Homo sapiens: one gene and its partner. The protein of the gene in region 2 interacts with the protein of the main gene of each other region in a pairwise test. Each region holds a gene or a part of one and is shown on either strand. Other genes may lie near its edges. The genes, in order: PAX4 and NECAB1.

What was found.
Region 1: the proteins of NECAB1 (region 2) and PAX4 interact in a two-hybrid assay, tested with the Homo sapiens proteins (one large-scale study listed by BioGRID).

Annotation. Positions count from the first base shown.
Region 1 is NC_000007.14:127,615,258-127,619,781, reverse strand, and holds the start of PAX4 (paired box protein Pax-4), read left to right. Parts: upstream 1-1,639; 5' UTR 1,640-1,820; intron 1,821-2,381; 5' UTR 2,382-2,507; intron 2,508-3,754; 5' UTR 3,755-3,853; coding exon 3,854-3,866; intron 3,867-4,250; coding exon 4,251-4,381; intron 4,382-4,524.
Region 2 is NC_000008.11:90,955,604-90,960,039, reverse strand, and holds the end of NECAB1 (N-terminal EF-hand calcium-binding protein 1), read right to left. Parts: 3' UTR 1,034-4,436; coding exon of another isoform or gene 1,010-1,033; 3' UTR 647-1,009; downstream 1-646. Other genes in the region: uncharacterized protein C8orf88, read left to right, coding at 1,010-1,033.

The DNA of each region.
Region 1 (4,524 bases), on a different chromosome or scaffold from region 2:
AGACCCAAGAGCGCGTCATAAAGGCGGAGGGAGAGGGTAGTTTATGGGGTAAATCGCTGCCACCACCATCTGCTAGGGCTTGTCCCTGCTCCCCCTGATACCCCTATCTCCACCCTCATGCAGCTGTCTATAGGAATAGCTGGTCAGGACATAAGCCTTGAGCCCCTAGACGCAGGGGCAGATCTAGCGGGGAGGGATGAGGCAGGAATGGGGGACTAGGAGCAGGGCTACCACAGGCCTTACTGGGGACCTCCTCCCACCCAAGCATGGCTAAGTAGAGTGACCAGCAGTCCCCAGCTGCCCCGGGGATGGAATGGGCTGTAAGGACACTTGGGCAAATGCTATCCTGCCCGAGGTCCTGAAATCACCCTCTGCAGTCTCCCCTGTACCCCAAGACCAGTCTGAGGATGCTGGAGGAGGGTGGAAGAGGAAGAGAGTATGTATCAGGGTAAAGTGGAAAACTCACTTATGTGATATTTGGCCTTTGAGAGCAAGAGTTCCCAACCCTAGGATCAAGCTGAATGCACAACAACCACTTTCACCCCCAAAACCTCAAAACATTTACCAATGACATACGTCTTCCATTCTCTGATTTCTGGGACTAGTCTTATTGCCCTACACCCTGCTTACTTCCAGTCTAACTTTTGCAATGGTTTCACAGACTCTGAGGTGTGGAATGGACCCAAAGACCATCTGCCCAAGACCCTGATGACTGGCAACAAAATTTACATGCACTAGAGGCTGTGTTTCACTTTCAGCATCCCACTCCACAGGCACCACCTGCCCAGCTACTGATACCTCTGACCTCGCCAATGACCCAGATAACCTGTGGTGTCTTTTGTGGAAACAGCAGTGCCATTACTAACTTAGAGTCTAAAAGCATCAAATCCCTAACAGAATGGAGCCTGCTAACATCTAAAGATGGAAGAAGGAAAATCCTGCTGCAAGCCTCCTTATAAACACCCACATGCATCTCTGACTATCCTGAGGCTCATTTCCACCACCACTACCATTGTCAGTGTTCTGAAGTCCAGGATCCTTCCATTTCCAGGCAAGAATTCACCCTTGGTGTCACCTCAGTCAAGGAGTCAATTGGAGAATTGGTTAGGACACTCTCTGGGGACAGCTGGTGCTAGGTGACACACACTCTTCACACTCTTCTCCATTCACTCTCATTATCTCAGAGTGCTAGGAGCCAACTCAGTCAGTATTTAGGCAACAGTCTGTATACTCATTTATCTTTTATAGCAACACACACGACTCAGGAGTTGACCCCAAAGCCCATGTATGTGCATTCTGGCTGGGAAGCTGTGTTGGTGGTTCGGGAAGGCATCTTTTTGCTTCTGTGTATTCAAAGCCTTAAGAACACAACCTGAAGTTCCCCATCTTCCATGCTCAGCATGCCCTTCAGGAGTACTGGTGCTTGTGTGGGTACACTTTTGCCTGTCTGAGAATGGCTCTGTCCCTGCTTCCGGGTGGTAGGTGGACACAAAGTGGGCTCTGAGGATTCCCCATGGAAGGACACAGTGGGTCATTGGCTGTGGTTTGCCCTGCCTCAGGGCTGGTGTCAGTCAGCCCATGCACACCTCCCTCCTCCTCTCTCCTCTGCTCATGGCCTGTGACATCACTGGCTACTCCCAGAAGGCTGCCCTCTGCTCTTGAGCACGGGCTCTCTATAGCTCTGGACCCCCTGGCAGGACTGAAGCAGGAGCAGAGTGGAGGCTGTTACCAAGACCAGATCATCACCACCCCTGGAGCCTGCAGGGGTCTCAGAAGCTGAGACCTCCCACTGAAGCTCCCACCTCATTTCCTCCACACAGGTAGCTCACCTGCAGGCTCATTGTCTGCCCTGCCTCTCATGCTGTCTCCATGCCTCTGTGTGGCCAAACCCAACTTCTCTCCCACTCTGCCTTTGCAGCTACAACCCTCCTGCCCCTTCCACCCCCTTTCCTGTTTTTCCATCTTGCAAGCACCAGTTATTTTTTCAGACATGTTAATATGAATGTTGGGAATGTGTGTTGTGGCTATTGGGAATGGGGTTTCTGTTTGTGAGTTGGGGCATAATGATTTAGGTTTGGAGATTATTTAGGTTTGGATACTGAACCTGCATCCCTACTGCTCTTTTGAATTCTGGTCACTTAGGAGAACTGAGTCCCATCAAGGATTTAGGGTTTGGCTGATATTTTGAGCTCCTTCACCCTGTCTTGGCACAGCCCTTTACAGTCCCTGCTTGATTCTCCTCTCTCCATTGTTTTTGTGGCAATTACACAAACATGAAACAGGGGTGGGAGCAGAGAAAGAGAGCCCAGGATTAGGAGCCAGAAATTGTAGCTTCTGATGAGGAACTGGCTTCTAAACCTTGAATTTTACTCTCTGGACAGCCCCTGACTTGTGGCAATGCCAATCTGTGCCTCAGTTTTCTCTTTGGAAAACCTCTGCCTTCTTTCCCGACTTTTTGGAAAGATGAGAATTTGAAGGGGTCTGTGCCTCTACCTACCTAGAAACAAGTGAGTAAAAGCCAATTTAGCGACTGAACTTAATAAGTAGACTCTGGATTCCAAACTCTTTGTAATTCTTTGTTTCACTGGTGCTAGTCTCTTTTCTCCAGTTGCTCTGTAATGTGTTGGAGAGCAAAGACTTTACCCTTTTCTGTTTACTGCCTTCATCCTGAACAACCAGCAATGTGCTCATGCTTAATATCTTATTCAGCATACAACTGCAGATGAATTAACTAAGCCCAGATGGCACGCTTATTATAAGAAAGTTCTGTGCATAAGCTGTTCCTTGGGGTGATCTCCAGCACTACCAGGGTTCCAGGCATGAAAGGAGGCATCTTCAACTCCCATTGATTACTAATGAAAGTAGAAGAGGTATGGTGGCCTGTGGGACCTGTGTCCCTTGCTGCTCAGAGACTCGCTTGGGCTCATGACGGTTTCTATGTTGCTCAGCGGACAGTCTTCTCCTGCTTCTCATTCCCTTCAATATGCCTTTGATAAATGTTAGTTGAATGAATGAGTGTCTGATACCAGAAACATCGTCTCTGAAATTGAAGCTTCACTGTGAGATCTAGAACTCTTCAGAGAATGAACAGAATGAACAATCTCAGCAGGTTAGAGATGCTAAGAGATGCGTCTCCTAGGAGAAGCCGGCTCTTCAGGCGTGTTCATCTCTATGCCCAGTGTGTAGGACCAGAGCCTCAATGCCTGGTGGGTTAGAGCTGAGTCCCAGTTTCCCTAGAGCTTCCTGGAGAGTATAAAAAAACAGGAGCAAGCCTTTCTGAAGTGCAGCATTTGGGTGGCAGTTTGGAGAGCCCAACCGAGGACTGCCTAATAGTGAAGGTGGACCCCTGAACTTGAGGACCCCAGAATCTCTGGCTCGGGTGTGTCTTCCAGGGCTGAGAAGGCTTAGGAGCAGCTGGAGACAACAGCTGTCCATTTGGAAAGGGGAAAGCTTGAGCATTTGAAAGCATTATCCCTTTCTACCTCCCCAAACTTTTCTAATGAATGTGTAGGAAAGGAGAACCCTCTCAATCCTCCCAGCCCCTTATCAGGACTTCAAGAAAGATCCAGTCCTCAGCCAACCTGCAGTGTTTTAGTTTTTATCACACAAAGGTTTAAATAAAAGGAATTAGAATTTTCTGATTTTAGCCAACCCACTGGCAAATTTTAGGAACCTGACCCTCTATCACAAAACACTACCTCCCAGGACCATTTCAAGCAAAAGACCTCACCCAAATAACCCCCCATTATTGCAGAGCCAGCCCCCAAGCTGGAAAAGGAGCTCCTAGAAGGAACTTCCCTTCCCAGCCTTCCCAGCTGGAGTCTCATCCTTCTGAGGAGGGTCAGCCTGGAGCATGCATCAGGACGGTGAGGAGCCTGGGGGAAGTGGGAAGACAGGGAGGACAACAGAGACAGGGGAAGACCTCAGGGCTTTGCTTCCATCAACTGTTTCATCTGCTATTGGCCAATGTTCTGGGGAAGCTTTTTCCAGTCCCTCCCTTCCTGCCCTGTCCTGCTTCCCTTAGATCAGGAGAGTTGGCGGGTATGGGCAAGGAACAAAGACTCACCCGTGAGCCAGCTCTCAAAGAAAGCAGCTTGCGTTGACAGCCTGGGGGCAGCAAGGATGCAGTCTCCCAGGAGAGGATGCACTCGGTGGTGGGAAGCCAGGCTGGAGGGGCCTGAGTGACCCTCTCCACAGGCGGGCAGGGCAGTGGGAGAGGTGGTGTGTGGATACCTCTGTCTCACGCCCAGGGATCAGCAGCATGAACCAGCTTGGGGGGCTCTTTGTGAATGGCCGGCCCCTGCCTCTGGATACCCGGCAGCAGATTGTGCGGCTAGCAGTCAGTGGAATGCGGCCCTGTGACATCTCACGGATCCTTAAGGTAATGGGCCAGCACCTTTACCCAGTGATGGGGACAGGAAGCAGGGAGAAAGGGCTCCTCTGAAGGCAAGAGCCTGGGGCTGTTGCAGGCTCTGAGGGCTTCTGGGACTTGGGTCACTTCCTGGGAGATCCTCTCGGAGGTTG
Region 2 (4,436 bases):
ATTGAATTGCTGATAAGGATGATAAGTTTTGCAATTGCTGATAAGGATGATAATCTCTGGCTGTTAGGATTAATAAAATAATGCATGAGATTACTGAGTATGATACCTTTCTCTCATTATGCTTTTAGTAAATGATTCCCATTCTTTGTGGTCTCTACTTACATTTGACTGGAATTTAACTTCCTATTAGAGTTTTCGTAAATACCTTTATATAGGTAAAGGCAGCTAGGACTCTTCTGAAATGAGATTCAGAATATAGGTATACTGAGAACAGTTCGAATGGGAGATAAACACTACTACCTTCTATCTCCATTTTTGGTATTCTAATTCTTTGGAATTCATAGTATTTTTTTCCTCAAATTATAATTTTTAAAAAACATTATGTTGTTCATAGTTTATATTAATATTTCTTAAACTCCCTAACTTTAGATCTCTAGCCAATTCTTTTTAAAGTTAATTAAAGCAGGAATTAAAATTTTTTATAATACTTCTCATGCATAAATATTAAATAAGAAAAAATGTACTTGATGTTTCAACTTTCCCACCGGTTCAAAGATCTTTGGGATATGTAATCCATGGTCTGTAAGAATAAATGTAAACTTCAGTGCTATATAAACTATAGTCACTTTTTCATTTGTAGACTTTCCATCTTTAATAACATTTTATTGTGTAAATAAAAGCTTGACATACACTTTTTAAAACAAACTTGTACATTAGAATTCATTTTACTTGTGATTTACACATTAATACATATTTTAAACCTAGGTGCCACAGAAACAGAAGAACAGGTTTGGAATACAATTTAATATATTTTAAAATGAGTTACATATATTTTAAAAACATGAGCCGTTTTGTTATTTGACAGTTCTAGTTACTTTAATAGTTTCTATGGTAACATGCATTTAAATCTGTAAACACCTGGTACGTTCACAGTATTTGGTTTGATAAACTAATTAGTAAAAACTGTATTCAATCAATTGATAAATTAACTTTTTCTTTTATATTACAGGAAAACAACCAAAGTTTTAAGTAGCATTTTAAGAACAGATGAATTTAAGTTTGGACATCTGCAAATGAGGTGGATCTAGCAACAATAACTGTAATGGACTGTGACAATTCAATTTATTCTTAATTTTGATGGTTGGCTATTTGACTTCTCTAAAAATGAGAAAGAGCTATTTTAAAATATAAAGAATTTTCTAATCAGTTTCAGCTTTGCAGGAGGTTTCCTGCATAAATTGGGAAGTAACACTGGAAAGTAGGAATTTGGTTAGTGAAGTGGGAAGACTGTATATTTATAATTTGCATACTACTTGCAATTTTTTGTTTTTCATCACTTGTAATAATGGAATGGAAATGTAAGCTGTAAAGACTCTCAAATATAAAATATTTGCTACAGTGTATATATGGTACATAATTGCTTGTTGCTTTTAAAGTTCCTTCTGTTGTTCTGCTTCCCACTGATTTCATACCAGCTCATGAATGGATCATTACAGTCTCTCCAGAGGCTTAGAATGATTCAGAATGTTCAATGCATAGTTCTCAATAAACAGGAGGCAGAATTTTTAATGGGTATTTCTTTTCAGATATATGATTGGTCTCTAGGTTTTTGATAATAATATGGTCTTAAATTCATAATTACTAGCAGAGATTGATAATTTGGAAACAATGGTAGTGAATGAAACTGAAGTTGAAAAACGGCTGCTACTTATGTCACTAATCAGACCATATGAATAGCAGAAGTTGAGCAATTTCAAAGTAAAACTGATATTTTTATTTCCAAAGGAATTTAGACATTTGAAAATAATTGACATACATTAAGTTTTAATTCGATAATTTCTTATATATGGATGAACAATTTTTGGGTTTAAGCTTTTAATTCCTAGAAATTTTATACATTAAATCTCCTGCAATTTGTCACTCTGGATGTTACTGTTTAAAAAAAAAAAAAAAAAGGGTTTCTTCCAGAAAAATCTGCTGATATATAGGTAAGTAAGTGTAAACTCTCCCTAATTCTATTTCTTAGATCCCTAGGTCTATTGGCAAAAAGTTTGTTTCACTGAATTTTGAACTCCTAAACCAGTACTTTTTTTTTCACTGTTTTTTGAGCTTGTTTCCCAGATTCAAGCTTGTATTCCATGTTACGTTTCCCATCTTGGTCTTTTAGTGACCTCTTTTTTTTATTTTTTAATTTTTTAAATTTTTTTTTATTTTACTACTTTGTTCTTTAGGAAAATGGGGTTTTAAATAGAAAAAAATCTTCGTTAACTATAAACTTATTGTTTACTTTAGGATGAGATATTTATACTTAGGTCCCAGTTTTTTCTTTTTTTTTCTTTTTTCTTTTTCTTTTTCTTTTTTTTTTTGGCCCTACTAGTTTCCTTTTCTACTATAGGTTCCAGTATATATGTGTATGTGAATACACACTCACACACATTCACATACATACAACTCTCACAAACATACACAAAAATACATGTATAATTTGTATAAGAGCTGGGGTCAGAATGACCATATAATTATATTGGTTTGCTTTGTTATTTGCCCGTTCTCAAGTCATTCTAATTCTTGTTTCAGAATATGATAGAGCTTATTCCAGTTTGGAATCTGCAGATCCCTTCCACTTAGTACTGTTAATGAAAACAGAACCCTTTTAACAAGTAATACTACCATGCTACTTTGGAAACTGCCTAGTACCCAAAATATTTGATATGCTTTTTGAGTTGGATACTTAAATGCACCAACCAAAGCAATGTTTTGATTGGCTATAATTTGTATTTTTGAAACCATTTACAACAAACATTCTCAAGAAGAGTTTGTATGTCAAAAGTCATTTAGGTTTTAAAGTCTTTTGATCTTTTCTTACTATATACAATCAGTCTGCAGAGACTGTTATGTGTCTGTTTGCCTTTGTACATATATATAGCTTGTTTGAATAATCATTGTGCATCTCCATTAATGTTGTTCTTTGCTTTGTATATAAATTAAAAGAGTTGACCCAGGTGTTGTTACACAGTGTCTGTCATCCTTAGAGTTGACCAGAGGCACACAAATACACACACACACACACACACACACACACACACACACACACACGTGTGTATGTACAATATATCAAAATTTACTACTTATTTCTAATAGAACTATGAAAGGATTTTAAAATTTTATTTATACTGAATGAGAACTGAGAGTATACAAAGGTATTGGTAAAAGTTGCTGTTTCATGAATTAGTTTGAGAAAATATTTTAGGTCAAATTTATATTTAAGAAATAAAATTTTATTAGTTCAATCTTCCTTTTTTCCTGAGTTTTTCAAAGGGGGAAAAACAGGAAAATTTTACCTTATAATTTTCCTCAAAGACTTATAGTTTCAAAGGAATTTATACTAGAAAATAACATGGCTATACATTTTTATATGTATTGTATTTTCATTAGCAAGGTTTATAACCAGAACAGATTTTTATTATTAAAAATATTTAATTTCTGAGCTTGTTGAGCAGAGTGTAGATAGTATACTATCTACAGATAGTTCTATAGGTAGATAGTTTTAGTCATTCTAGTGTTGAAATTCGAAAACAGATGTCTTCTGTCTAATACTTTCACTACTATTTTATGACTTCCCTAAGATTTTGTGCTTGTTTTATATTTCTTAGTTATTCATTTGGGTTAAAATTTTATTTTTCAAGTATTTTGAAATCATTGTTTACATGCAAATATGTATTTTTCATAAGAAAAGTTAGCTGTCTGTATCGCATACCAAAACTATATAGCATAAAACTTGAACCACATTTTTCCAAACAGTCTCTTCTTTCTTGATATATTTAACTTACATAACAAAGAATTATGATGCTAATAAATGACACAATGTTGCTGTATTACTAAATGGTACTCCAACTTATCACAGGATTGTTCACTTTTGAAAAACCAGTCTATAACCTGATACGTGGATAGAGATTCTATAGGTTACAGCCAAGGTTGTTTGATGCCTATATACTAACTTTTTAACTAATGCAAAGATAGTAGTCATAGGGCTGTGAGTTGGGTTGGGGATGGAGTAGACATTGTTGAAGAATAAACTTCACTCACAGTTACTTAAAAATCACAAAACGCTGATTTAACCCTTTACAGTATACGACAGTTTACAAAATCTGCCCTATGAAGTAATACTCTAAAAGTTTCCACTTTATTTTTTCTTTATCATAACAGATTCATTTTCACAATATTATTCCTTTATGCATATGCTTTTTTCCACATATTAGGATTTTGTCACTAAAAGGTTTTAGGTGAGTTACAATGTAGCAAAGCATTTAGCATTAAATATTGAGAATATTAGTGAACTTTGAAAATTGAGCTAAAATTCACATGAATTGATAAAGTTATAGAATAAGTTTTGAAAGAGTGCACTTAGTAAATATACCAAACAAAAATATACAGTA